Regions from separate parts of the Homo sapiens genome. Here region 1 is linked to region 2. Evidence: fine-mapped expression QTL. A gene starts in region 2. The other region holds a variant in brackets. All regions are shown on one strand. Distances are from middle to middle. Region 1 has its middle 24 kb from the start of STOML1. Region 2 holds the start of PML (PML nuclear body scaffold).

Region 1 (15,506 bases), 30 kb before region 2:
TCTCATTTCTGATTCACAGCCATTGCCCCTTCCACTTCTTCACAAAAATTCAAGTATATTAAGAAATACATATTTTTTTGAGACGAGGTCTCACTCTGTCGCCCAGGCTGGAGTGCAGATCATGGCTCACTGCAGCCTCGACCTCCTTGGGCTCAGGCAATCCTCCCACCTCAGCCTCCCAAGTGGCTGGAACTAGAGGCACGTGTCACCATGCCTGGCTAATTTTATTTATTTATTTTTTGTATTTTTTTGCGGAGACAGGGTTTCGCCATGTTGCCCAGTCTGGTCTCAAACTTCTGAGCTCAAGTAATCCTCCTGCCTCTGCCTCCCAAAATGCTGGGATTACAGGCATGAGCCACAGTGTCTGGCAAAGAAATAATCTGCATACAGCAAAATTTACCCTTTTTAGGTGAACAGTTTGATGAGTTTTGACAAATATATGCAGTGATATAAATACCCCCACAGTGAAGATGTAATACCTCCATCACTCAGGACTTCCCTCTTGCCTCTTTGTGCTCCGTTTTCTACCTCCCACCTCCAGCCCCCGGCAACCACTAAGCTGTTTTCTGTTTCTGTAGTTTTGTCTTTTCCAGAATCTCAAATATGTGGAACCACATAGTATGTGGCCTTCTATATCTGGCTTGCTTCACTTAACATAATGCTTTTTTAATTTAAATTTTATTTTTATTTATTTATTTTTGAGACTGAGTCTCACTTTGTGGCCCAGGCTGGAATGCAGTGGCGTGATCTTGGCTCACTGCAACCTCCGCCTGCCAGGTTCAAGCAATTCTCCTGTCTCAGCCTCCCAAGTAGCTGGGATTACAGGCACACACCACCATGCCTGGCTAATTTTTTATATTTTTAGTAGAGGCGGGGTTTCGCCATGCTGGCCAGTCTGGTCTCCAAATCCTGACCTTGTGATCTGCCTGCCTTGGCCTCTCAAAGTGCTAGGATTACAGGCAGGAGCCACCGTGCCAGGCCTATTTTTCATTTTTGAGACAGTCTCACCCTGTTGCCCAGGCTGAAGTGCAGTGGTGCAATCTTAGCTCACTGCAACCTCTGTCTCCCGGGTTCAAACGATTCTCCTACCTCAGCCTCCTGAGTAGCTGAGATTACAGGTGCCCACCACCACGCCTGGCTAATTTCTGTATTTTTAGCAGAGACAGGTTTTCTCCACGTTTGCCAGGCTGGTCTCTCAAGTGATCCGCCCACCTCGGCCTCCAAAGTACTGGGATTAGAGGCATGGGCCTCTGCACCCGGCCTAATCTTATTTTTAATTGTAAACTGACAAATAACAGTTGTATCTATGGAGTATGAAGTGATGTTATGATGTATTAATATGATGTTGAATAATCAAACTGAGCTAATTAACATATCCATCACCTCAAATACTGTTCTTATTTTTTGTAGTAAGAACATTTGGAATTTATTCTGTTGATAATTTTGAAATGTACATTATTTAAGATATTTGACCAGGGGTGGTGGCACATGCCTGTAATCCAAACACTTTGGGAGGCCAAGGCAGGCGGATCACTTGAGCTCAGGAGTTCAAGACCAGCCTGGGCAACATGGTGAAACACTGTCTCTACAAAAAACACAACAATTAGCTAGGGATGGTGGTGGGCACTTGTAGTCCCAGCTGCTCAGAAGGCAGGGATGGGAGGATCACCTGAGCCCAGGAGTTTGAGGCTGTAGTGAATTATGGTCTAGCCACTGCACTCCAACTTGGGTGACAGAGGGAGATCTTGTCTGAAAACAAAAAACAAAAACAAAGTGGCTACATGCTCACCAGACACATTATATCCTCTTTTTTTTTTTTTTTTTTTTTTTTTTTTTTTTTTTTTTTTTTTGAGACGGAGTCTCACTCTGTTGCCAGGCTTGAGTACAGTGGTGCAATCTCGGCTCAGTGCAACTTCTGCCCCCTGGGTTCAAGCGATTCTCCTGCCTCAGCTTCCCAAGTAGCTAGGACTACAGACACGTGCCACCACACCTGGCTAGTTTTTGTATTTTTAGTAGAGACAGGGTTTCACCATGTTGGCCAGGATGGTCTCAATCTCTTGACCTCGTGATCCGCCTGCCTCAATCTCCCAAAATGCTGGGATTACAGGCATGAGCCACTGTGCCTGGCCTGTATCCTCTTTTTAAAAGCCATTCTAGTAGGTATCCTGTGGCAGTCATCTTTCCATATTCCTGGGGACTGATTCCAGGACTCCTGAAAATAGGAAACCCCGGGCATGCTCAAGTCCCTGATATAAAATAGTGCAGCGTTTGCATATAACCCAGGCACATAACCCGCTCTACTTTAATTTATCTCTAGATTACTTATGATCCCTAATATAATTTAAATGCTATGTAAATCGTTGTTATGCTGTATTGTTTTTATTTGTATTGTTTTTATTGTTGTATTGTTATTTTTTTCAATATTTTTTATCTGTGTGTTCACTGTGCAGTTGGTTGAATCCGTGGATGTGGAACCCGTAGATACCGAGGGCTGACTGTATTTCATTCTGGTTTAAATTTTCATTTCCCTAGTGACTAACAATGTTGAGCATGTGTTCATGTGGTTGTTTGCCAGGATATCTCTTCTTTGATGAAATTTCTGTTCAGATCCTTTGCCCATTTTTAATTGGCTTGTTTGTCTCATTATTGAGTTGGAAGAATTCTTTATCTATTCTGGATACAAGTTATTCATCAGTGATATGTTTTGCAAATATTTTTTCCCAATCTGTCGTTTGTCTTCTCATTTTTTACTAGTACCTTCTAAAGAGCGGAAGTTTTTAATTTTGATAAGAGCCAATTTATCGGTTTTTTTTCCTTTTATGGGCTGTGTTTTTTGTCCTATCTAAATCTTAACTTAAACAATGTCACAAAGATTTTCTGTAAGCACTGCAATAAATGGTATCCCATGAGTTTTTAGGACTAAGTTCTAATTTTTGATTTTGCCCAAATTTCTATCTAAGGGATCTAGGGAGTCATGCCCTACAAATCCTAAATTCTCATCAGATGGGTTTTATTTATATATTGTGACTTACTTTTCAATCTGACTCTGGTATAACATTACGAGACAAGGAAAAAATATTTAACCCCAAAATATATTTCCCTGCCATAGCTTGAAATTGCCCTGCAAGTCTCTTGTGGGAAAAATCCACATTCTATAGAGAATCCCCTTGCCCCTTTGTTTTCCTTCCTTCCTTTCCAGATCCAGGAGATAATCAACTAAGAGCCAGGCACTCTTTTAGGTCTAATAAGAAACATTTTACAACCTGCTCTCTCTCTCCTCTCTGTCTGAAGTCTGCTATCTGAGAGATTCCTCTGCACAATAAAACTTGGTTTCCACAATCCTTTATTTTAACCTGAACATTTCCTTTCTATTGATCCCAGATCTTCAGACAAACTCAACCAATTGTCAACCAGAAAATGTTTAAATTTACCTATAGCCTGGAAGTCCCCACTTTGAGTTGTCCCTCCTTTCTGAACCAAACCAATGTATTTCTTAAATGTATTTGACTGATGTCTCATGCTTCCTAAAATATATAAAACTAAGCTGCACCCCGACCATCTTGGGCACATGTTCACATGTTCTCAGGAGCTTCGGAGGGCTGTGTCACGGGCCATGGTCACTCATATTTGGCTTAGAATAAATCTCCTAAAATATTTTACAGAGTTCGACTCTTTTCATCGACAGTGTTGATATGTTGTATTTTTATTTCCATTAGAATATTTCTAATTATCCTCATGGTTTCTTCTTTGAACCATAAGTTATCTAAAAGTGTGTTGTTTGATTTCCAAACATTTGGGGACTTTCCAGATATCTTTCTGTTACTGATTTATAGTTTAATTTCATTATGGTGAGAAAACATACTTTGTATGATTTCAATTATTTTTAATTTGTTAAGATTTGCTTTATGGCCCAGAATATGGTCTATCTTGCTAAAGTTCCATGGGCACTCAAAAAGAATGTGTATTCTGCTGTTGTTGTGCGAAATGTCCTATAAATGTCAATCAGATTGTTGGTTATTAGTGTTATTCAAGTTACCCATACCCAGCCTGATTTTCTGTGTACTCGCTCTACCAAATATTGAGAGAAGAGTGGATGTGTCTATTTCTCCTTTCAGCTCTAACGGTCTCGATTGCATGTACCCTGACTGTGTTCTCCAGTGCACATGCATGGACAGTTATGATGTCCTCTTGATGAATCAACCCCTTTATATACAGTCCTTCTTTATTCCTGGAAATATTCTCTGTTTCTGCTTCATCTGACATTAATATAGACACTTGAGCTTTCTTTGGATTAGTGTTTGCATGGCATGCCTTTTTTCCATTCCTTTGGTTTTAGGCTATCTAGGTCTTTATTATTATTTTTTATTTCTTTTGAGACAGAGTCTCGCTCTGTTGCCCAGGCTGAAGTGCAATGGCGTGATCTCAGCTCACTGCAACCTCCACCTCCCGAGTTCAAGCGATTCTCGTGCCTCGGCCTCCCAAGTGGTTGGGATTACAGGCATGTGCCACCACATCCGACTAATTTTTGTATTTTTAGTAGAGATGGGGTTTCACCATGTTGGCCAGGCTGGTCTCGAACTCCTGACCTCAGGAGATCAGCCCGCCTAGGCCTCCCAAAGTGCTGGGATTACAGGTGTGAGCCACCGCCCCAGCCCTAGGTTTTTATATTTAAAGTGTGTTTCTCACAGACAGCCTGAGGGTCCCGGAAATTTTCTGGAAGTTGCGGCTCCACCCTCAGCTCTCAGCAACCCCTGCTCGCCTGCACTACCTAGGGGATGCGTGGTCTTGCCCTCCTCCTGGTGGTAAATGTCTCTGTGTGCTCTTGCCCGCCCCCTGGTGGTAAATGCCGTTGCTGCTACTCTTGGTTGGGCTAGTAGTGGAGGCAGTTTGTGGACGTGTGTTAAAGGGTTTCCGGACGGTGGGATGTTGCTCCATTCTCCTGGCCCAGCCTCCGCAGAGCCTGTGTACTAGGGTCTCAGAAGGTGGAGTCTTCGAAGTGCTCCTGTCCCTCCTGTCGTGCCTTCTATCTCCTGTGGGTTTAACACAGGAGAGTGCGTCCTGCGCCTCCCACAGGGGCAAGTGGTGTTTACTTTGATCCTGCCCCAGAAGCAGTGGATCTTCGTTTCTGCCTCTCCCGCAGCAGCCCTGGGGCCAGAGAGTGCAGCCTCCCACGTGGTTTTGCCCAGAGAGAATCGTCCTGGGGAAGCAGGTGGGGGTCGCTGCACAGCAGTCAATCACCGCTTGAGTGCTTGTGCCACCAGCAAGGGGGAGGGGTCTCTCCCGGCTCCCCCTCTGCCTCCAGTCTTTTTCCTGCAGTGAAGGCCTGTGCAAAAAGCTCAGAAGGCAGGGCAGACTCCCTCCTGCCCACCACATGCTCTGCCCAAGACAGTTGGTCTTGCCTTTCCTTGGAGGGGCTTGTCACTCTTTGGAATTCAGTTCTCTTGGTTGCCTGCCACCTCAGCTATCTGACTGGTTTAAGAAATTATGGTTTTGCAAATTATCTGGTGTTTTGTTATTGTTAGAGTCGGGGGGCGGGGTGGTTCATTCCTGTACTCCCAGCACTTTCGGGGGTGAGGTGGGTGGACCCTTTGAGCCCTGGAGTTCAAGACCAGCCAGCCTGAGCAACATGGGGAAACCCTGTCTCTACAAAAAAAAAAAAAAAAAAAAAAAAAAAATTAGCCAGACATGGCGACAGGAGCCTGTAGTCCCAGCTACTCAGGAGGCTGAGGTGGGATGATCACTGGAGCCCCCCCAGAAAAGAATGGGAATGATGTTCCCTTGTGGTTTTTCTATATCCTAAGAGGAAATAAAACACTCTTCTCTTTCACTTTTAACATATGCAAATGAGTGACTCTAAATGCCTTCTAGGGCAATGTCTCATGGCTTACAGTGCCTCGTGGTTTTTCTCATTTCTTTCATGATTGCAGCTGTATTTGCTACCACTTGTGCAGCTGACATTTACCAAGCCCTTACTGTGTTCCAGCATGCTTTCATTTAGAACCATCCCTGACTCCTCTTTTCTCTCAAACCCACGTTCAATTTGTCAGATAATCCTGTTGGCCCCATGTTCAAAATATAACCAGTTCCTTTCAAAAATAAAAATGGACTTATCATAAAACCCGGCAATTGCACTGTCATGCATTTTTCCCAGAGAAATGAAAACTTATTTTCATGGTGGAACTTGTACACAAATGTTCATAGAAGCTTTATTTATAATAGCCCTAAACCAGAAAATACTCACAAACTATGGTATATTCATACCACAGGATACTATTCTGCTGTAGAAGGAATGAACTATTGGTACAAGCAACAACTTGGATGAACTTTTGCTGAGTGAAAAAGCCAGCCTCAAAAGGATACATCACTGCATGATTCTATTTACACGGCAAATAATATAATTAGAGAGGGAATAGACTAGTGGTTGTCAGGAGTTAGGAATGTGTATTAGTCCGTTCTCCTCTTTCTATAAAGAAATACCTGAGACTGGGTAATTTATAAAGACAAAAGGTTTAATTGGCTCATGGTTCTGCAGTCTGTACAGGAAGCGTGGTGGCTTCAGCTTCTGGGGAGGCCTCAGGGAACTTACAACCATGGGGAGGGCAAAGGAGGAGGCAGGCACCACTTACATGGCCAGAGCAGGAGGAAAAGAGATGGGAGGTGCTACACACTTTTGAACAACTAGATCTCATGGTGCTAATCCATTCATGAGAACTCCACCCGGTTTGGTGGGGACCCAGATCAGTACCATATCAGAAGGGAGGGGAGGGTGTGGCTGTAAAGGGGTTACACGAGAGGCTTTGTGGTGATGGTACAGTTGAGCACCTCGGTCATTCTGGTGGCTACTCCAGGCTACACATAGGGCAAATTTACATAGAGCTACTTTGTGGTTGGCTGGGTGCGACGGCTCACATCTGTAATTCCAGCACTTTGGGAGGCTGAGGTGGGGGGATGACGAGGTCAGGAGGTCGAGACCAACCTGGCCAACACGGTGAAACCCCGTCTCTACTAAAAATACAAAAATTAGCCGGGTGTGGCAGTGTGTGCCTGTAATCCCAGCTACTCAGGAGGCTGAGGCAGAAGAATTGCTTTAACCCGGGAGGAGGAGGTTGCAGTGAGCCAAGATTGTGCCACTGCACTTCAGCCTGAAAACAGAGTGAGACTCTGTCTCAAAAAAAAAAAAAAAAAAAAGCTTTTTTGTGGTCTTTGTGCTGATACCAAATAAGTGGTATCATTTCCAACACCAATCGATTTTCTGCTTCTGTGATACCAATTGGGTGTTCAATAATTCAATTCTATTCTGATACTAACCTGGAGTTAGTGTCAGACTCCACAGGCTGAAGGGCTCAGTCCCATAAGACTACCCCCATTTCTCCCAGGCGCAGTGGCTCACACCTGTAATCCCAGCACTTTGGGAGGCTGAGGCGGGCGGATCACCTGAGGTCAGGAGTTCGAGACCAGCCTGGCCAACATGGTGAAACCCTGTCTCTACTAAAAATACAAAAATTAGCCAGGCCTGGTGGCGGGCACCTGTAATCCCAGCTACTCGGGAGGCTGAGGCAGAAGAATTGCTTGAACCCAGGAGGTGGAGGTTGCAGTGAGCTGAGGTCACGCCATTGCACTCCAGCCTGGGCAACAAGAGTGAAACTCCATCTCAAAAAAAAAAAAAATGGCTGGGTGTGGTGGCTCATGCCTGTAATCCCAGAACTTTGGGAAGCCGAGGCAGGCGGATCACCTGAGGTCAGGAGTTCGAGTCCAGCCTGGCCAACATGGTGAAACCTCATCTCTACTAAAAGTACAAAAATTAGCCAGGAGTGGTGGCGAGTGCCTGTAATCCCAGCTACTTGGGGGGCTGAGACAGGATAATTGCTTGAACCCAGAGGCGGAGGTTGTGTGAGCCGAGATCGTGCCACTGCACTCCAGCCTGGGTGACAGAGTGAGACTCGATGTCTCCAAAAAAACAAAACAAAACAAAACAAAACTACCCCCATTTCACATGCCAGTCACAAGTACTGGGTCCCCAGGTTACCCACACTTCTGTCCAGCCAACTACAAATTTGGAGGTTCCCGTGACCTCCATTCCTCAGGTTTGATAATTTGCTAGAATGGCTCACAGAACTCAAAAAAACACATTACTTCACCATTACTGGTCTATTGTAAAAGATACAACTCAGGAACAGCCAAGTGAAGAGATGCATAGGACTGGGTATTGTAGGGTGGGTGTGCAGAGCCTCCCTGCCTGCTCTGGGCGTCACCCCTCCAGCATCTCCATGTGTTCCAACCCAGAAGCTCTCCAAACTCCATTGTTTTGGAACTTTATGAAGGTTCCATTACAGAGGCATGATTGATGAAATCATTGGTCATTGGTGACTGAACTCCATCCCTAGCCACTGTCCACTCCCTGGAGGTCAGAGAGTGAGGCTGAAAGTTCCAACTCTCTCATCATCAATCATGGCTTAGTCTTTCTGATCAGCAGCCTGTATCCAGAAACTATTTAGGGTCCTCATTAACATAAGCTCAGGTATGGTTGAAAGGGGTTTGTTATGAATAACAAAACATCACTGTAACTCAGGAAATTTTAGGAGGGTTTTAAAAGATCTGTGCCAAGAACCAGGGACAAAGGCCAACTCTATTTTTCTCACTATATACATGATTTCCCATTTCCTACAGGCACACACAAACACACACACAAATGGGTGCGTGCATAACTGGTTAGATCTGAATAAACTCAATGGATTGTGCCGATGTTCCATTTCTTCGTTTTGATACTGTACTCTGGTTATGTGAGTTGTTCGCATGAGAGGTAGGGAACATGGGACTTCTCTCTACATTCCTTTGTGACCTTCTGTGACCCTACAATTATTTCAAAATTAACAACTTAGAATACAAATAACCAGAGTCCACCTCCCGCCCTGCTACCAGCCTGGTCCACACCACTCTCTTTTCTTGCCTGGATTATTGCAACAGCCGCTTTTTTTTTTTTTTTTTTTTTTTTTTTTTTTTTTTTTTTGAGATGGAGTCTTGGAACAGTTTCTTAATGGGTCTGCTTTTACATACAATCTATTCTCAATAAAGCAGCTTCGTAAGACAGATCCTACCATTTGTAGAAATAAACAAAAACCATTCAGAGCTTGCT[G/A]TAGCAAGGTTGTCAGCCAGCATCACTTGCATTTTTGTAGGGACTCAAAATCAGGCTGAGCCTTATTGTCGGTGGGCCGGGGGTAGGGGTGCGGGAAAGGAGGTGGGGGAAGGCTTGGGGTGTGCCCTGATTGGAGGCTATTGGCCTGGAGAAGCTGGGTGGGATAATTTGGAGGGGATTCTGAGATTGGCTGGGGAGGGGTGGGTGCATATTTGGCTTTCTCTTGCTGGCCCTAAGTTGGAAGCTGGGACAAAAATTAGGGAAGCTGCCAGTTTTTAATCAAGTCCTGGCCTTTCGGGGCTGATTGTTAGAGAAGTTATTGTTTTGCTTCCTGGATGGCTACTGGAGATAGTGATCTGGCTTCCTTCATGTCTGACTTATAGCAGACTGGCATCCTGGGCTGTGGATTCCAGATGAGGGGGTTGGTTTCCTGGGCAGCTTGCTGCAGGTTAGGCTCAGAGTTCTAGTTTCCACAGGGTCTGGCCATGGTGCACGTGTATGTTCAGTCCCTCATGTTCCTCTGCTTAGAACCCTGCAGGGGCTCCCACTGAACACAGCCCTTCCTGTGGCCTACCAGGCCCTACATGAGCTGGCCCCATTTCCCCTCTGGCCTGGTCTTCTGCCACTCTCCTCCCTCTCTCCATCCCAGCCACAATGGCCTCCTTGCTGTTCTAGAACATGCCAGGCCCTCTCCCAAGGCATTCATGGCCTTCTAACATACTGTATGCCTTTCTTATTTTTCTCTCTCTCTCTGTTTCTCACTCTCTCTCTCTCTATATATATATATGTATATACGTACGTATATACCTATATGTATATACATATACACACACACACACACACACATATATATATGTGTGTGAGACAGAGACTCACTCTGTTGCCCAGGCTTGGAGTGCAGTGGTGTGGTCCTAGCTCACTGCAGCCTCAAACTCCCGGGCTCAAGCTATCCTCCCACCTCAGCCTCCCAAAGAGCTGGGATTACAAGCAGGAGTCAATGCACCCGGCCTCCTTTCTGATTTTTAATGCTTATTGCTTATGTCTAGCTCTCACAACTAGAATGTAAATTCCACAAGGACAGGGTTCTTGGTGGGTTTGTTCCCTACTATATCCTTGGCACCTAGAACATTGCCTTGCCCAGCACATAGTGAGTGCCCAATAAAAAATGTTTGAGTGAATCAATGAGTTTGTGCGTACATGTGTGCAGATACATTTACTAACATCTACTACTTCTAATTAGGTGCTCAGTGTTTACTAGACACTATGCTAAGTGCTTTCATCTAGTATCTAATTTTTATTCTTCATAGCTTTCCTATGGGTAGGTGACATCAGGCCACTTATCTTTCAGGTAAAGTGGTCTCAGAGGACATGCTGAAAGCCCATGAGCTTCTCAGGGACCTAAATAAATGTTTAAAACCTGAGAAAAGTCTTGGCTCCAAAATGTAAAAACTACAGAATCATCCAAATTAATAAATGTTTAATCAAATGTCTACAAAGTGTCATCGATTGTTAATTTATGTCATTAATTCTCTATTGGCCTCTTTAATTATTAAATGCAGTGTTCATAAGAATTTCATTACTTTTGAAAAGAATTTGTAGACTAGATGTTAACTCTTGGAGCACAGTCATGTATCTGTTAACCACAGGAATACCATCAGAAAAATGTGTCATTAGGTGATTTCAATGTTGTACAAACATCAGAGAGTGTCCTTACACACTCTGTGATGTGTAGCCTGCTACACACTTAGGCTATAAGAGATAGACTATTGCTCCTAGGCTACAAACCTGTACAGCACGTGACTGTACCGAATACTGTAGGCAATTATAATACAATAATAAGTATTTGTGTATCTAAACATAGCTAAACATAGAAAAGGCACAGTAAAAATATCATATAAAATATTTAAAATGTACACCTGTTTAGGGTACTTACCATGAATGGAGCTTGCAGGACTGGAAGTTGCTCTGGGTGAGTCCGTGAGTGAGTGGTGAATGAATGTGGAGGCCTAGGACAATACTGTACACTACTGTAGACTTTAAAGACACTGTCACCTAGGCTACTACACTAAGTTTATTAAAAATATTATTCTTTGGCAGGGCGCGGTGGCTCACGCCTGTAATCCCTGCACTTTGGGAGGCCGAGGTGGGTGAATCACCTGAGGTCAGGGGCTCGAGACCTGCCTGGTCAACATGGTGAAACCCCATCTCTACTAAAAATACAAAAAATTAGCCAGGCATGGTGGTGGGCACCTGTAATCCCAGCTACCAGGGAGACTGAGGCAAGAGAATCACTTGAACCTGAGAGGCGGAGGTTGTAGTGAGCCGAGATTGTGCCATTGCACTCCAGTCTAGGCAACAAGAGCAAAACTCTGTCTCAAAAAAAAAGTTTTTCTTCAGTAATAAATTAGCCTTAGCTTTCTACAACTTTATGAACTTTAAAATTTTTTTTAAACTTTTTGACTTTTTATAATAACACTTAGCTTAAAACACAAACACATTATGCAGCTATACAAAAATATTTTCTTTTTTTGTATCCTTATTCTATAAACTTTTTATTTTTCAATTATTTTATTTTTACTTTTAAAACCTTTTTGTTAAAAACTAAGACACAAATACACACATTAGCCTAAACCTACATAGGGTCAGGACCATCAATATCACTGTCTTGCACCTCTACACCTTGTCCCACTGGAAGTTCTTCATAGGCAACAACACGCATGGAGCTGTCACCTGCTATTGCAACAATGCTTTTTTTCTTTTTTTTTTTTTGAGACAGAGTCTTACTCTGTCGCCCAGGCTGGAGTGCAGTGGCACGATCTCAGCTCACTGCAGCCTCCACCTCCAAGGTTCAAGGGATCCTCAAGCCTCAGCCTCCCAAGTAGCCGGGAGTACAGGCACGCGCTACCATGCCCAGCGACGGGGTTTCGCCGTATTGGCCAAGCTGGTCTCGAACTCCTGACCTCAGGTGATCCACCTGCCTCGGCCTCCCAAAGTGCTGGGATTACAGGCGTGAGCCACCACGCCCAGCGGACAATGCTTTCTTCTGCAATCTCTCCTAAAGGACCTGCCTGAGGCACTTCTTGAAGAAGTGTCCGTCTTTTCAGAAGTATGTCCATGGTGGTTTGCCAAGTTTGTTTCTTTCTTCCGTCATAGATTTGCATGAGTAATGCTTTGTGTCAGCTAAAATGTTACATCGGCTATGACGTCACTAGGTGATAGGAATTTGTCAGCTCCATTATAATCCTATGGGACCGCCATCGGATACGCAGCCCATCACTGACCTGAGACGTCGTTATTTAGGGTGTGACTGTACTTTAAGAATGCAAATGAATACCCAGGGAGGGCTGAGAACGCGTAGGTAATTACACCATAAATGAATTACTCTTAGCCAAGTAATTTCCAAGGCAAACATACAAAAATCACCTCGTGTTACCTGACAGTGCTATGTTATATTTAACGTAAGAAATCTGTGTATTTTAATATTTAATAAGGTGTGGGAAGGAACTTCCAAAGGTAATAGCATCTGGTCCTAGCAAGGTCTTAAAACGCCGTTTGATTTCAGAATGCCTCATTTTGTAGATTTAATCCAGAATCTGCAGTTTCTGGCGACGCAGTAGTCCGTCTCCCCCAGTTTCTCCTGGCCAAAGCCTCCCACCTTCCTCTCTACCCCCACAACCCTGTCAAGCGCACCTGGACCAGGTACAACAGGGGTGTGTGTGTGAGTGTGAGTGTGTGTGTGAATGCATTTGGGAAAGGCTAGGCAGGGTGAATATTCCCTAGACCCCGCTCTTCACCGTCACTCTACTACAGCAGCTCACTGCCCTGCCCCGCCCCTCCCCGGCCCTGGAAAGCAGCCTCTGGAAAGAGGAAACCAGCTATCTCCCGTGTTGCCACAAGATGGCACCACAAGCTCGGGACTGGCTTTCTTTGCGTTCCCGTCAGAAAAAAACGAGAGCTCTGACCTAGGAGCCGAGGCTCCCAGGGAGACCTCTGGACGCCACTCCCCGGGCTGCTTCTCCTCCTCGGGGTGACTCGGGCCCTCTGGAGTGACCTGCATAGCTTTGTGGTTCGGGCTCCCATGGGGCCCAGAAGCCAGCATGGAGACTTAGGGCTTCTCTTGGGCCACTTTTCTCCTCATACCCAGCATGCAGACCAAGGTTGGGGATGAATTCTGAACGTGGGGCAGAGTCCCTGTCCCCAGAGCAACTCTGAGAGCACCTTGCCCTTCTTCCCAGGGCACAGGCACCAGCCTTCCTCCCCAGCTCAGTCCCTGCTTCTTTCTAAGACAGGTTCTTGCTCTGTCGCCCAGGCTGGAGTGCAGTGGTGCAATTATGGCTCACTGCAGCCTCGACCTCCTCCTGGTGAGAGGTGACAGCGCGCCTGCAGCCCTCGCTCTCGGCGCCTCCTCGGCCTTGGTGCCCACTCTGGCCGCGCTTGAGGAGCCCTTCAGCCCACTGCTGCACTGTGGGAGCCCCTTTCTGGGCTGGCCAAGGCTGGAGCCGGCTCCCTTAGCTTGCGGGGAGGTGTGGAGGGAGAGCCGCGGGCGGGAACCGGGGCTGCGCGCGGCACTTGCTGGCCAGCGCGAGTTCCGGGTGGGCGTGGGCTCCGCGGGCCCCGCACTCGGTGCGGCCGGCCGGCCGGCCCGCAAGCCCCGGGCAGTGAGGGTCTTAGCACCTGGGCCAGCAGCTGCTGTGCTCGATTTCTCGCCAGGCCTTAGCTGCCTTCCCGCGGGGCAGGGCTCAAGACCTGCAGCCCGCCATGCCTGAGCCTCCCCCCAGCTCCGTGGGCTCCTGTGCGGCCCAAGCCTCCGCGATGAGCGCCGCCCCCTGCTCCATGGAGCCCAATCCCATCGACCACCCAAGAACTGAGGAGTGCAGGCACACGGCGCGGGACTGGCAGGCAGTTCCACCTGCAGCCCCCGTGTGGGATCCACTGGGTGAAGCCAGCTGGGCTCCTGAGTCTGTTGGGGACTTGGAGAACCTTTATGTCTAGCTAAGGGATTGTAAATACACCAATCGGCAGTCTGTATCTAGCTCAAGGTTTGTAAACACACCAATCAGCACCCTGTGTCTAGCTCAGGGTTTGTGAATGCACCAATTGACACTCTGTATCTACCTACTCTGCTGGGGACTTGGAGAACTTTTGTGTCTACACTCTGTATCTAACTAATCTAGTGGGGACATGGAGAACTTTCGTGCCTAGCTCAGGGATTGTAAACGCACCAATCAGCACCCTGTCAAAATGGACCAATCAGCTCTCTGTAAAATGGGCCAATCGGCTCTCTGTAAAATGGACCAATCAGCAGGATGTGGGTGGGGCCAGATAAGAGAATAAAAGCAGGCTTGCCCAAGCTGGCAGTGACAACTCGCTGAGGCCCAGTTTACGTTGGCGAAGCTTTGTTCTTTCACTCTTTGCGATAAATCTTGTTGTTGTTCACCGTTTGGGTCCGCGCTGCCTTTATGAGCCGTAACACTCAACCGCGAAAGTCTGTAGCTTCACTCCTGAAGCTAGCGAGACCACGAACCCACCGGGAAGAAGAAAAAACTCCAGACGCACCGCCTTCAGAGCTGTAACACTCACTGGGAAGGTCTGTGGTTTCAGTCCTGAGCCCGTGAGACCACAGACCGACCAGTGGGAAGAAATTCCGCACACATCTGAACATCAAAAGTAACAGACTCTGGATAGGCCGCGTTTAAAAACTATAACACTTACCACGAGCATCCGTGGCTTCATTCTTGAAGTTAGTGAGACCGAGAACCCATTAATTCCCGAAACACACTGGGCGCAAATCTTCCCTTCTCAGTTTTCCAAGTAGCTGGGACTACAGGCGCCAACCACCATGCCTGGCTAATTTTTTTTGTATTTTTAGTAGAGATGGGGTTTCACTGTGTTAACCAAGATGGTCTCAATCTGACCTCGTGATTCACCCGCCTCGGATTCCCAAAGTGCTGGGCTTACAGGTGTGAGCCCGCACACCTGGCCACCAGTTATTTTTCAATTGTTCTGTTTCCCTGTTCTTGCCTTACTAAGAAAGTAATTTTGAAATGACCGATCCGTTCTTTGTTTTTTGTTTCTGGTTTCTTCAGCTTATTCTGTCTGTAAAACCTGCGTCCTCTGCTCCGCTCCATGAAGACGCTCATTCTGTTTTATAGAAGTTAGTAAGTGTGATATATCTATTCTTTGTTTTTGTCTATAGTTCCTGGCTGACAGCCCATATAATCATTGTAATTTCCTAGGAGACTAGAGTGTGATAAGAGTATCTTTCCTTAAAATATTTGGCCTTTCATCCTTTGTTCTTGAAACAGCTCTGGAGCAGCTCCAGAGTAAGCATAAAGGTGAAAGATGGGCCGGGCGGAGTGGCTCACGTTTGTAA
Region 2 (15,218 bases):
CTCCCCTGACCAATGTGAATGAATGGTTCTTGCCTAGCCCATTACACAAAGGGGTAATAATATTTAGGGAAAGGGGACAGAGGATAGGCAAATTTATTCATCAATGCCAAAGCTCTCAGTGTGGCCCAACCACCCTGGGGGCTGACCCAGCCAGCCTTACCTTCAGGGCAAACCAGCCAGAAATGGGGAAGGTGACCAACAGCAGCAAGAACCCCAGGAAACTGATGAGGCCATGACAGAGGCAGGAGGGCCAGCTCTGGGGTACATCTGCAGGTGAGAGCAGAGGTGGTCAACTGGACCTGCACGACAGCTGCCAAGCGGAGTGAACTTGGGCAAGTGTACCTTACGCCCACCTTCCCCTCGAGAGGCTCCTTCCTTCTCAGGGCTCTCAATCTGGCTCCTTGCCTAATATTCCCGTATCTTTGGGCAGCTGCAAGTTAGGGTCTGTTCCCTCCTCCCATACATCAACACTCATTTGTCCCAAGTCCAACAACCCTCACAAGGCCTTATTCTCTGCTAGGCAACAGCCATTCAATCTCAGAATCCAGTCCGCGTGATGATGCTCTCCTCACTGGACTGAGTAGGGGTCAATCCTCTCGTTTAATTTATATTGCCTACCCATACCTGGCATGGAGCCAGGAGCACCTGGGCATCTGTAAACATGCACTGAATACTGCTGGCAAAACACATTCCTCCTATACCATCAGCCCCAGAAGTGTGCTTTCCAGGAGTCCTTATGAAGATGATGCCTTAGCCTACAGGGATAAATCATAAATAGCTTATCAACGGGAGCCACAGATGAGGAATTAGATTATTATTTTCTATTCCACACCCAACTTTAATGCCTTAATGACCATTAAAAAATGCCTATTTCACGAGATGGCGCCACTGCACTCCAGCCTGGGGGACAGAGCGAGACTCCATCTCAAAAAAACAACAAACAACAAAAAACAAAAACAAAAAAAAACCCTGCCTATTTCAATTCAAGAAAATTGTTAGGGGTCGGGGTCAGGGGCAGGGCTAGAAAGATGAGGCTTATCCAAGCCAAATGTCCTGGCCCCTGGAGATTCAGGAGCCCAAGTTGGGAGCAAAGCCGAGACAGCTCCAGAATCTGGGATGAGGTTATTTGCCGCTTTCCTCCCAACCCTGGACAGGAAGCAGTCGGGAGCCCTGCTCCATTCTTCCAGGAAGCCCTGCCCTCTGGGCTAAGCCCCAGAGCACTGAGGCTCCACTTTGTGCCTGGCTCTGATCCACCAGGCCTCTCAAGAGACTTCTGGATAGGGAGAGCTTTCAGGACAGGAAGGCCAGGGAGGGATCAAATCCAAGGTTAGGCGGTTAGGCTGAACAGCGTGGGATCTGGCCTGTAGGCCAAAGGAGCCACAGAAGACTTTGAGGGCAAGACAGAAGCAGGGCAGATCCAACAGGCAGCTGAGGACCTGTCATTTTGGCCTGCACATCCAGGAGATGCCTAGTTCCCGGGCTTCTAGAGGTGCCCCCTAGGGCGAAAATTCTTCCATTTCCCTGCAGCAGGTGCCTTTAGGGTGCTGGTGGCCTCCTCTGCCTAGACCTCGGTTTCTTCTATGCGAAATAGAAACCTGAAACGTCTTCCCAGGCCTAAAGGGCTGATAAGAGCCGAGGACAAATGTGGTGAGGTGAGGTTTTGGAAGATAGGAGCAACGCTGGCTGGCTCTGGGGCCAAAGCCCCATGACCCTAGGGAGGGCGGATCGGCGCTAGCACCAGGCGCCGGGTCCAGCCCCCTCTCCACATCGTATCCCTTTCTCAGTCCCCCCTCGTAGGGTGCGACGGCACCGGGCCGGCCGACTCCTCGGAGGCAGAGATTCGGGCCTGGGGGTTGCCGGCCGGTCCCCCCCGGCTCCGCCGTGCCAGGCGGCCACTCACCGGCCCCTGTCCCCACGCCGCCCCGCTCCGGGGACAAGCAGCCCTTCTGCGAGCCCAGAAAGCCGAAGCTCGACTGCTGGAAGCGGTCAAAATCACCCAGGGGCAGCGCCCGGTACCCAGACCTGCCGAGCATGGCTTTTGACAGGAGACACGCCCCGCGCCTCCGCGCGGCGCCCTCCCTGGCCAGTGGGCCCTACGCGGCCCCGCCCTCCTGGCTGCTGCTTCCGGCTTCACCCGCGCGGCCACCCGCGGCGGCGCGGGCGCAGGAAGAGGAGGCCGGCCGGGGCCCGCTTCCGCCGTCGCATGGCTCCCCCTGCGCTGGGAGGACCGAACTGCAGCCCAGGGCTACTGGGTGTGATCGGCGTTCCTCGGACCCCGCTGGGGTCATCGCCTCCTCCCCTCTTCTCCTACTCAGCCCTAGAAAAGCTGGAGGGGAAGCTGGGCACGGTGGCTCACTCCTATAATCCATCAATTTGGGAGACTCAGGCAGGAGGATCGCTTGAGGCCAGGAATTCAGGACCATCCTGAGCAACATAGTGAGAGCCCATCTCTACAAAAAATTTTTAAAAATTAGCCTGGCGTGGGATGCCTGCCTGTGGTCCCAGCCACTTGGGAGGCTGAGGCGGGAGGATCTCTTGAGTCCAGGAGTTTGAGGCTGCAGTGAGCTATGATCGTGCCACTGCACTGCAGTCGGAGCGAGAGAGCAAGATCTCATCAGGGTTTACAGGAAGCCAATCTTCTCCAGGATCAAGGACATGCTATATCAGCCTTCTCAGCACTCCTTCTCTCACACTGGAGGCAGGACATGCCATATCTGGACTTTGGGTTTCTCTGGGACATAGTCTGCAAATTATTCCTCTTTGTGAACCCACAGCCCAGCAAGCAGGGACTGGCATAGGGCAGGTCTCAATACTTATTTGTTAAGTAATGGCCTGGCCAGGTCACCGTGATCAAGGTGGAGTAGGAAGGCCTGAACTTTGGCACAAAAAGAAAGAAGTTTCACATGCAGACTTCGGGGAGCATGGGAGTGTAAGGAAGAAGGGGATAGCACAGAGCTACATGAGGGCAGGGGCCCCAGAGCACCACAGAGGTGAGGCCCTCAGTCCTGCAGGTCCAGAAAGAGCATGCCCCTTGATCCAGGTACCTGGAATTAACTTGCCTCTCCAGGGCTTGAGAAAACCTGAATGCAACTCGTGAATTTCCTTTGAGAAGTGTTAACTTCCAACAGGACTTTGGGGTAGTCTGGGAGCAGGCTATCTTCCAAAGCAAGCAAAGAAATGAATAAAGCTTCCCCAGCTCTGCCTCCTCAGCCAATCGCCTCTGGCCTCCGAAGCCCCATCCTGCCATAGCCCACTTCCAGGTCCCTTGTGCAGATGGCTGCCCACCATATTTGGCTTTCATGGACTGATTCTCTAAAGGCCTGGGAGTACTGACCAGGCTGGAGGGAAGGGCAGGCTCCTGAGGCCTTACAGTCCCTAGGAAGTTGCGTATCTGCCCAACCCCTGCTCTCCACCCTGCAGACTGTAAGGTTTACAAGAGCCAGGCCCTATCATCATCCTTTCTAGTCTGTTTCTAAGTTGGAACAGAGTACGGAATGGGTACACAGGAGCCAGCACAGTGGTTGCGATGGTTTAAGTTTGAAGCCGGGGCGCTGACCCAGTGAGGTCACCTGGAACTGTGCCCCTTTCCCCTTACCAGCTGGGAGTCTGACATGCTTTTCCATTGGCGAAGACCTAGCTGGCTCTCCCCTCACCCTCTTCATACCCGCTCTCCAGCTCTCCCCCTCCCTCCTGCCCCCACCACCTCAGATCCACCAGCCTTTCCAGCTGTCACTCAAGGCATCATCCTGCTCCCTCACCTCCAGTCACTGGCTTCCCAGGATCTCTGAATCAAGTCCCTCCTCTGCATCCCACAGCCACTGTCCTAGACCAGGGCACCTGCTCCTAGGTTGTCAGAGTGACTGTCCCATCATGCACAGCTGATCGTGTTGTTCCCTGGTTCCAAATCCTTCAGCAACTTCCCATCACTCACAGAACTGGTTCAATCTCCTCAGCTAGGATCTTGTCCTAGCACACTCCTTGGGTATCATTTCTCATGAATTCCCTCTTAAATCTGAAAATGGCCAAAATTAGTTCCCAAACAGGCTTTTGCAAGAGCTATCTTTTCTGTTTCAAGTGTCCCCCGTACCCCACCACCTACAACCCTAAATCCCTGGTGAATTTCCACTGCTTTTGCAGGTCCCAGCTGTGGGCTCTCCTTTCCAGAATGTCTCCGTTTGCAGGCTTGCTCTTCCATTACATCTACGGCTCTTAGAAAGCAGGGGCTGCGTGTGGCTCATCTTTGTACGCCCAGCTCCCGGCAGGACGTGGCACGAAGCAGTGCCAGTGTGAACGGATGAATGGATCAAAGCCGGGAGCAGGGCTGCCCCCCTGCAGCTCTGCCCTACCTCTCCCGCTTTACCGTAAGTCAGCGGTAGGTCTGCAGCTCTCCGCCTCTACCTCCTCCCCGCTCTGGGCGTGTCTTTAAAACCCACAGTCGGCCTCTCTGCCCCCTAGAACCGCCCCCAGCTTCTGTCTCACTTCCTCTCCAGAGGCGGGCCCTGAGCCGGCACCTCCCCTTTCGGACAGCTCAAGGGACTCAGCCAACTGGCTCACGCCTCCCCTTCAGCTTCTCTTCACGCACTCCAAGATCTAAACCGAGAATCGAAACTAAGCTGGGGTCCATGGAGCCTGCACCCGCCCGATCTCCGAGGCCCCAGCAGGACCCCGCCCGGCCCCAGGAGCCCACCATGCCTCCCCCCGAGACCCCCTCTGAAGGCCGCCAGCCCAGCCCCAGCCCCAGCCCTACAGAGGTACTATTGGGTTAGGGGATGATGGGGTTAAGCTTTGTTGGTTTGCTGTGGTGGGGAGAGGCGGGAAGAGAGGGTCTAACGGAGGATTTGGTCAAGTACCCTAGAGAGTGACACAAAGCGGGAAGTCCAGACACCAGGGTCCTGACCGTCTCGGGTGGGGCAGGGAAGGGAGGGTAGGATAGAGTAGAAAAGAGGACACGGAGGAGTTGGGGCGGCCTCGCTGGGCTGCGGTTTCTCCACTGAGCAGTTGGGCAAGGTGAGAAGGGTCAGTGGCCTCCGGGCCTGGGCCCTTCCGCCCACCCTCGAGCCCTGCCTCAACTTTGCCTCAGATGCAGGACTTCAGATTAGGGAGGATGGAGGTAGTACCCCTGTTGCGCTGGCCTGGAGCCAGGGGCATGTCCCAGGCACGGCAAAACTAAAACCAACTTCCCAGATCCGAGGTGAGAAACTGGCTCAGACTGAAGAGGTATCTTTGCCAAGGCCTCCCAGCTCATGTGGTTTCTGCTTAAGGAAGCCTCCCCAACGAACCCTTCTCTTGCCACACCTTTCCTGCCCACCTCCCACCTCCCCCGACAAAGGAACTACTTGGGTTTCTTGCTCTGCTGCCTTTCAGGCCCTTTTACTCCCCTTCATGAAAGTACAGAGGACACCGTATTACAGTAACTTTTATAAACATTATTACAACTAAGAATAACATTACTTAACAATACTAGGTAACATTTATGAGCACTTCAAATGTGCCAGGTACTGTATTAAGCACTTTGGTTTTTTTTTGTTGTTGTTTGTTTGTTTTGCTTTGTTTTTTGTTTGTTTGTTTATCTGTTTGTTTTTGAGACGGAGTCTCACACTGTCGCCCAGGCTGGAGTGCAATGGTGCGATCTCGGCTCACTGCAACCTCCTCCTTCCGGGTTCACGCCATTCTCCTGCCTCAGCCTCCCGAGTAGCTGGGATTACAGGCCACGCCACCATACCTGGCTATTTTTTATATTTTTAGTAGAGATGGGGTTTCACTATGTTGGCCAGATTGGTCTCTAACTCCTGACCTCGTGATCCACCCACCTCGGCCTCCCAAAGTGCTGGGATTACAGGCATGAGCCACCATGCCCGGCCTGTTTTTGTATTTTACAAAATGTGGTAAAATATACCTAATGGATAAGTTCCTATGTTAACCATTTATAAGTGTACCATTCAGTGGCATTAAGTAGATTCACAATATTGTGTAACCATCACCACCATCTATTTCCAGAACTTTTTCATTACTCCAGAAACTCTGTACTCTTTAAACCATAGGGGAGGGAAAGATGGCTTGCCTCCACCCTTCTAGTTTCCTTGGCTGGGCTATGAATTAAATAGCCTATGAATTAAATAGTCATAAAATAGATTACCAGCGGAAAACCCATATTTAATTACATATGTATACTCAGGAGTCCCACAATATATGAGACTCAAAGAAAGGTCAGATGATTGAAGCCTGTATAACATCCTGAGCTACGGAAAAGAGCTTGGAGCTTCTGGGTGATGGTGATAACACAAGTTATGGGAGGGTGAGGAGAGGAGCTGTTTGGTGAATAGAGGTTGTCTTGCTATGTAGATTAAAAGTTCTTAGATAATAAAAGTTGTCTGGAGCAGCCCTCTTTTAATATAGATCATTTTACTAATGTAGATTTTCTTTTAAGATATAAATGCCTTTCTTTTTTACAAAAGGAGAGCTTTTCAGAGCTATTCCTGTATCAGCAGTTTCTCAGAATAACCAGCTTAAAATATGCCAAAGAAGTATATTTCAAGAGCCTCCTGCAGTCATACTTTGAAGTGGTGTGTCCTGAGCCCCAGTAATGCAATAGCTCCTCATTTTCTCCTTCCCCTAGCCCTTGGTAACTTCTAATCTACCTTCTGTCCCTATGAACTTACTTATTCTAGATATTTCATGTAAGTGGAATTGTTACCAGTAGAGGATCTTGACTGCAAATTGTTCAGGTTCTTGGCATTTTGAACAAAGAATTGGACAAAATGTACAGCAAAGCAAGGAAAGAGTGAAGCAATGAAAGCAGAGATTTATTGAAAATGAAAGTACACCCCACAGGGTGGGAGCGGCTAGAGCAGGGCTCAAGGACCCCAGTTACAGAATCTTCTGGGTTCCAAATACCCCCTAGAGGTTTCCCATTGGCCACTTGGTGTTCACCCCATTGGTTGCAGAAAGCAACCAACCAGACGTACTTTCAATTTTCCATCTGCCCTGCAGGAAATGGGGTGATTTGCAAAGAGAGTAGCCTCTCTTCCTTTTGTTACTGAGGCATGGAGAGTTGCGGTTTTCCTTTCGATTTAGTTCTAGGAAGTCAGAGGGAATCGGCCTTAGGTTCCCTGCCTCCAGACCCTATTCTCCTGCCTCAGAATCATACAGTGTTTGACCTTTTGTGACTGGCTTATTTCACTTAGCATAATGTCATTGAGGTCTATCTATGTTGTAGCATGTATCAGAATTTCATTTCTTTCTAACGCTGAGTAATATTCCATTATATGTGTAGACCACATTTTGTTTATCTATTCATCTGTTGATGGATACTTGGATTGTTTCTACATTTTGTCTATTGTGAATAGTGTTGCTGTGGACATTGTTGTACAAGTATCTGTTTGGGCCTTGTTTTTACATCTTTTGGTTATATATCTAAGAGTGGAATTTCTGGGTCATATTGTTGTTCCATGCTTACCTCTTTAATGAACCCCCAAACTGTGCATTAAGCACTTTATATGAGGTTGGTACTTAGTGTATCTACCTTCCAAACTGAGTTCCTTGAAGGCAGAATGTATCCTACACCTCTTATATCTCAGAGCCTATTACTGTGGGTGATGAGAAGTAGATGCTCAATAAATGGTGCAGTGAGAGCTGGAGGGCCTGAATAAATGGGGGTATTGGGGTGCTGATAAGCCAGGGTTTTGCATCATCCAATGACTGGCTGGAATGGAATATGAGGTCCTACTCCAGGGTCCAGCTGTAAGGGTGGTTGGCCGGTAGGTGGGGGCTTTTGGGACTTCTCCAGGCCTCACCTGCCTCTCTGGTCCCCCAGCGAGCCCCCGCTTCGGAGGAGGAGTTCCAGTTTCTGCGCTGCCAGCAATGCCAGGCGGAAGCCAAGTGCCCGAAGCTGCTGCCTTGTCTGCACACGCTGTGCTCAGGATGCCTGGAGGCGTCGGGCATGCAGTGCCCCATCTGCCAGGCGCCCTGGCCCCTAGGTGCAGACACACCCGCCCTGGATAACGTCTTTTTCGAGAGTCTGCAGCGGCGCCTGTCGGTGTACCGGCAGATTGTGGATGCGCAGGCTGTGTGCACCCGCTGCAAAGAGTCGGCCGACTTCTGGTGCTTTGAGTGCGAGCAGCTCCTCTGCGCCAAGTGCTTCGAGGCACACCAGTGGTTCCTCAAGCACGAGGCCCGGCCCCTAGCAGAGCTGCGCAACCAGTCGGTGCGTGAGTTCCTGGACGGCACCCGCAAGACCAACAACATCTTCTGCTCCAACCCCAACCACCGCACCCCTACGCTGACCAGGTGAGTAGGCCGGCACAGGGTGGGGTGGTGCATCCAAGTACCAGGTAGAGGGCGAGAGGAGCAAAGATCCAAAGAGTCACACAGCTGAGGACAAGGAGCTTCTGGGGCCTTGCAACTCTAAATGTGGTCTGCAGATATGCAGTGTCCGTGTTGATGACCACAATTTATGCTGCCAGTCCCCACGCAGGTGGATAGTAAGTTTCCAGTTTCCTCCTGTAATAAATAATGCTGCAGAATCATCTTTGCATCTTTATCCAGTAACTTCTTTAGGATAAATTTTTAGAAGTGCCACTGCTGGGTGTAGGGGGACGGGAATTCTACATTTGATACATGTTACCAAACTGCCCTTTAGAATTTAGTGGAATTTTCCGAGAGCACTGACACGGAATCTCAGTAAGGCTGGATTCTAGGATCAGAGACAAGTAGTTAGTTTCTGTCTGAAAAGTTGAAACCATTAACACCAGGCAGCGCTATCTGAGAATGTCTGTATGGGGAAAAAAAATCACATCCAGTTGTAATTATTTTTATTAAACAGATTTTAACTCAGTTTTTTAATAGGTAATACATTCGTACAGTTCACGAACAAAATTTGTAAAGAGGAGAGAGAGAGTGCAATCTTCTGTCCATGCCCAACTGCCTAATTCCCACCACTTCTCCCTCTTCCCATCCACAGGTAGCCATTGTTACTAGTTTTGAATGTTTCTTCTGAGAGTTTCTTTACGAATATATATGCAGGTAGGAGCAATCTTATCAGGTCCTATTTTCCCTCTTTTAGCCAAAAAGGTAGCATAACTATGTGAACTTTTCACCATTAGCAATAGATTGTTCATAGAAGGCGCTTCTTGGTTCTTAGAGATCCACTTGCAAAATGAAAGCATTTTTCGCTGGTTTTTGACAACTCAGAACTATATATGGCTAAACCACATATTTGCTGAACTACATATCTGCTAAACTGACTGTGATTTGTTTCCTGCTTTAGGATAAACTTCCCACACTATCAGAATAAGCTTTCCCCTCCGACTCCTCAACAGCTGGTATCACCACGTTTCTTAGCTTATTGTAAAGGTTGAGTGGCTTTCCACTTGTTTATTGGCCATTGTGTTTCTGCATTTGCGAGTGGCCTGTTTAGGTCCTTTGCCTGTTGTTGTTGTTGTTTCCGTTGAGGAATTAAGGGACTAATTAAAGAATTCAGGAACAAATTCCTCGAAAGAAAAAAATGTATGCATTTCTTTTGCTCTTACAATTTATGCAGTTTTAAAACTTACATATTTATTGGATTTTGATTGAAATTGCAATAAATTAGGAGAAATTGGCTTTATCTCTGGTTCTATCTTTTGGATTTAAAAAATTTTTTTTAATTTTTTTTTTTTTTTTTTGAGATGGAGTCTCGCTGTGTCACCCAGGCTGGAGTGCAGTGGCGCGATCTCGGCTCACTGCAACCTCCACCTCCCGGGTTCACGCCATTTTCCTGCCTCAGCCTCCCAAGTAGCTGCGATTACAGGTGCACATCATCATGCCTGGCTAATTTTTTGGCATTTTTAGTAGAGACAGGGTTTCACTATAATGGTCAGGCTGGTCTCCTGACCTCAGGTGATCCACCTGCCTCGGCCTCCCAAAGTTCTGGGATTACAGGCATGAGCCACCATGCCCAGCCTTATACTAATTTCTTAATGAATTTGTAAGCTTTCATGTTTTGAACGTGATAATGCAGCCATCCCACGGGATCCATGGGAGTCTGTTTCAAATTCATAGATGCTCAAGTCTCTGATATAAAATGGCATAGTATTTGTATATAACCTCTACACATCCTCCTGTATACTTTATTTTTTATTTTATTTTTATTTTTTGAGACGGGGTCTTGCTCTGTCGCCCAGGCTGGAGTGCAGTGCTGCACTCGTGGCTCACTGCAGCCTCAATCTCTTGGGTTCAAACAATCCTCCCACCTCAGCCACCAGATTATACAGGACTGCAGGTGTGCACCACCACACTCAGCTAATTTTTAAATTTTTTGTAGAGACAGGGTTTCACGACATTGCCCAGACTGGTCTTGAGAACTCTTGGGCTCAGGCAGCAACCCTCCCTAGGCCTCTCAAAGTGCTGGGATTACAGGTGTGAGCCACTGTACCCATCCCCTCCTGTATACTTTAAGTCATCTCTAGATTACTTATAATGCCTAATACAATGTAAATGCTATGTAAAGAGTTGTTTTACTATATTTTTGAATTTGTATATTTTTTTATTGTGGTACTTTTTTAATTGATTTTTTTTCGCCTGAATATTTTTGATCCAAGATTTGTTGAATCCACGGGTGCGTAACCTGCAGATACTGAGGGCCAACTGTACATATAAATTGTTTAGCGTAGTGCCTGGCACATATTAAATACTCAGTGAATGTTAAAATTCTATTATAATTTCTCTGCTCTAGAACAATTTGAAGAATATAAGAAATTTAGGCTTATAAAAGTTTTTTGAAAAACCATCTTGGAACTGGTGCCTTTTTTATAGTAGATTTTTGGGAACTTTTCCCATTTTTGCCATGGCATTAATCTGTTTTGGCTCTTGTGTCAGATTTTTGGAAGATTTTCCAGTTCATCCTGAGTTATCTTTCATTATTTAAAAATCTCCTATATGCCTGTAACTATACCCCCTTTTTTTATTTCTGATGTTGTATATTTGTGGTTTAGCAGTCTTTTCAAAGTACTGTACTTTTAGTCTTTCCTTAGATTGCTTACTGATTTTAATGTTTTCCTTCTTTCTGTTTGATCATTTTATTTTTGTCATTTTCTTCCTTCTAACTTTTGTCATTATTCATTTTCTAGCTTCTTGAACTTATAATTCATTTATTTGCAATCTTTATTGTTTAATAATAATAACTTTTTTTTTTTTGAGAATCTCCCTCTGTCACCCAGGCTGGAGTGCAGTGGTAGATCTTGGCTCACTGCAACCTGTGCCTCCTGGGTTCAAGTGATTCTCCTGCCTCAGCCTCCCCAGTAGCTGAGACTACAGGTGCCCACCACCATGCCTGGCTAATTTTTTTTATTTTTAGTAGAGACGGGGTTTCCCCATGTTGACCAGGCTGGTCTCGAACTCCTGGCCTCAAGTGATCCACCCGCCTCAGTCTCCCAAAGTTCTGGGATTACAGGCGTGAGCTACAATGCCCTGCCTAATAATAACTCTTTTAAGGCATAAGTTCTCTGTATATGGTTTTGGCTGTATGCCATAACTTTGATAACTTCATTAGTGTTCTCATAGTCAATCATTTCTCAAATTTCATTTCAGTCTTTTCTTAAAAAGGTTCTCTTGCTTAAGGTCAAGAGTTCGAGATCAGCCTGGGCAACATAGCAAGACCTCATCTTTACAAAAAATAAAAAAAATTAGCCAGGCATGGTCGGTGGTACATGCTTGTAGTCCCAGTTATTTGGGAGGTTGAGGCAGGAGGGTTGCTTGAACCTAAGAATTTGAGCCTGCAGTGAGCTGTGATGGTGCCACTTCACTCCAACCAGAGCATCAGAACCGGACCCTGACTCGAAAAAAAAAAAAAAGAAATTTTTTTCTCTTGAAAAGTTTTAGAGAATAGTGTTTTCTAAAATTTTCAAGTGGTTTTGATGTTTGGTTTCTTGTTCTGTCACCCAGGCTGGAATGTGATGGTGCGATTTCATACTTGTTAATTTCTGCACTATGGCCAGTTTATACAGTTTGTATGAGTTCTACATCTAAGACTATATTGAGATTTTCTTAGCGGCCTAGGATATTCCTTGGACTCACATATTCCTAGCAATAATCCTTAGAGTTGAAAAGTTGTATTTGTTGTACACACATATATATACATACACAAATATATGTATATAATATATATGTGTATATATGCATATATCTATATGTATATATCCATATATATGTAAGTTCTAGTGCTTGTGTGTGTGTGTGTATCTCCACGCTATTGAAACTTTCTACCTTTCTTTCTTTTCTTTTTTTTTTTTTTTTTTTGATGGAGTCTTGCTCTGTCATCCAGGTTGGAGTGCAGTGGCATGATCTCGGCTCACTGCAACCTCCTCCTCCCGGGTTCAAGTGTTTCTCCTGCCTCAGCCTCCTGAGTAGCTGGGATTACAGGCGTGTGCCACCATGCCCGGCTAAGTTTTTTTTTTTTTTTTGTATTTTTAGTAGAGAAGGGGTTTCATTATGTTGGCCAGGATGGTCTTGATCTCCTGACCTTGTGATCCACCCGCCTCAGCCTCCCAAAGTGCTGGGATTACAGGCGTGAGCCAACATGTCTGGCCGAAACTTTCTACCTTTCCTTCCATTCTGTTTCACCAGTTCTCTAAATGATAATTACAGAGTGGTAACTTCCCCATCAAAACATATATATAGGCCAGATGTGGTGGCTTCCACCTGTAATCCCAACACTTTGGGAGGCCAAGGCCGGTGGATATTTTGAGCCCAGGAGTTTGAGGCCAGCCTGGGCAATATGGTGAAACCCCGTCTCTACAAAAAAATACAAAATTAGCTGGACATGGTGGCACATGCCTCTCGTCCCAGCTATTCGGGAGGTGGAGGTATTCCTCAGAGAGGATCACCTGAGCCTGTCCGTTCAAGGATGCAGTGAGCCATGATCACGCCACTGCACTCCAGCCTGGGTGACACAATGAGACTCTGTCTTAAAAAAAGAAAAAAAGTGGGCCAGGCGCAGTGGCTCACGCTTGTAATCCCAGCACTTTGGGAGGCTGAGGCAGGCGGATCATGAGGTCAGGAGTTCAATACCAGCCTCACCAACATGGTGAAACCTCGTCTCTATTAAAAATACAAAAATTAGCCGGGCGTGGTGGCGGGCGCCTGTAATCCCAGCTACTCGGGAGGCTGAGGTAGGAGAATTGCTTGAAACTGGAAGGCGGAGGTTGCAGTGAGCTGAGATTGTGCCACTGCACTCCAGCCTGGGCAACAAGAGTGAAACTCCATCTCAGAAAAAAAAAGTGTATACACACACCAACACACACATACATGCACACTCTAGAACCTATCTCATCTATCACCACAAAGAGTAGAATATAACTATTCTTCCAGAGAAAATAAAACATTTAGCACACTTTTATAGTTTTTCTTCTTCCCTCTTCCTTCTCACTTTCAGATTTAGTTGAAATAATGTGAACTTTTAGTTCCAGATTACTACCAAATTGTTAATTTTTTTTTCTTTTGTAAACATCCTTTCTGAACAGGTATTAAGCTTCATGGTCATATTACAACGCACTTGTTAGCCATACCTTATACTTTAATTGGTTTCATTGCTCATGATAAGTTTTCCTATAGCTTTTCTTCTCCTTTCTTGAATTATTTAAGGTGATTAATTTTCCATTTGGCAGGAATACTCCATCAAGTAATTAAAAAAATTATTCCAGAGTTTACTTTCTGAGACCTTAAGTGTCTTTACTTGTATGTCCTTCTTTTGCTGTCACATGTGAGGGAAAGTTGAGCTAGGTGTAAAATTCTGAGGTCATAATCACAGTGCTTTCACCTCAGAATATATAAACCTTGCTTCATAAATTTCTAGTCTCTGGTGTTGTAGATGAGAAGTCCACTAATGGTCTATTTTTTCTCTGTGAGTAATCTGTTTTTGTTTGTTAAGGATCTTTATTTATTTTTATTTATTTTACTTTTTAGAGATGGGGTCTCACTCTGTCACCCAGGTTGGAATGCAGTGGTGCAATCAGAGTTCACTGCAGCCTCAAACTCCTGGGCTCAAGCAATCCTCCCACCTTGACCTCCCAAGTAGCCAGGACTACAGGCACCTGCCACCGTGCCTGGCTAATAAATATAGTTGGATGGTTTTCATTTGTTTATTTGTTTGTTTAGAGATAAGTTCTTGCTCTGTTGCCCAGGCTGGTGTGCAGTGGTGTGATCATAGCTCACTGTAACCTCGAACTCCTAGACTCAAGAGGTCTGCTAGCCTTAGTCTCTGAGTAGCTAGGACTATAGGTGCCTGCCACCATGCCTGGCTAATTTTTAAAATTTTATGTAGAGATAGGGTCTCACTATATTGCCCAGGCTGGTCTAAACTCCTGGCTTCAAGTGATCCTCCTGCCTTAGCCGCCCAAAGCACTGGGATTACAGGCTTGAGCCCATGCCCAGCCTGCTAAAGATCTTTATATAATTTTTTCTTTTTTCAATAATCTTCTATCGCCATTGTTGATCTGAAAAACTCAAGTCTTTCTTCAGCTCTTCATCTCAGGGAAATTGTATTCTGCTTTTTAATTTTTTTTTTTTTTTTGAGATAGAGTATTGCTCTTGGAATATAGTGGCATGATCTTGGCTCATTGCAACCTTTGCCTCCCAGGCTCAAGCAGTTCTCATGCCTCAGCCTCCCAAGTAGCTGGAACTACAGGAATGCGCCACTACACCTGGCTAATTTTTGCATTTTCTTTTTAGTAGACACAAGGTTTTGCCATATTGGCCAGGCTGGTCTTGAATTCCTGGCCTCAAGTGATCTGCCCGCCTTGGCCTCCCAAAGTGCTGGGATTATAGGCGTGAGCCACTGTGCCTGGCCATACTTTTTAATATACTGATAGCCCTTCATTTGTTTATTTTATTTTTTATTTTTATTTTTTGAGACAGGGTCTCACTCTCACCCAGGCTGGAGTGCAATGGCACGATCTCGGCTCACTGCAACCTCCACCTCCTGGGTTCAAGTGATTTTCCTGCCTCAGCCTCCCGAGTAGCTGGGACTACAGGTGCGCACCACCATGCCCAGCTAATTTTTGTATTATTAGTAGAGACGGCGTTTCACCATATTGGCCAGGCTGGTCTCGAACTCCTGACCTCGTGATCCACCCGCCTCAGCCTCCCAAAGTGCTGGGATTACAGGTGTGAGCCACTGCACCCGGCCCATTTGTTTATTTTTAAAATTTTTACTACTGTTGTTATATGGATATTGGAACTCCAAG

Evidence for each region.
Region 1: its variant is fine-mapped to the expression of PML in whole blood (TOPMed, PIP 0.92).

The regions. Positions count from the first base shown.
Region 1 is chr15:73,960,084-73,975,589 of GRCh38, forward strand. No RefSeq gene overlaps it. Among named protein-coding and RNA genes, the nearest start is that of STOML1, 24 kb to the right of the region's middle. RefSeq lists a silencer at 5,843-5,992 and an enhancer at 13,121-13,330. The variant G/A (reference allele first, on the strand shown) is at 9,134.
Region 2 is chr15:73,990,191-74,005,408 of GRCh38, forward strand. It overlaps PML (PML nuclear body scaffold), which reads left to right and starts at 4,526. Exons shown (of 9, transcript NM_033238.3): 1 at 4,526-4,751; 2 at 7,814-8,286. The coding sequence starts at 4,623. It overlaps STOML1 (stomatin like 1), which reads right to left and starts at 2,105. Exons shown (of 7, transcript NM_004809.5): 1 at 1,901-2,105; 2 at 161-267. The coding sequence starts at 2,033. RefSeq lists enhancers at 1,382-1,511, 1,572-1,641, 4,939-5,108, 7,398-7,900 and a silencer at 1,772-2,331.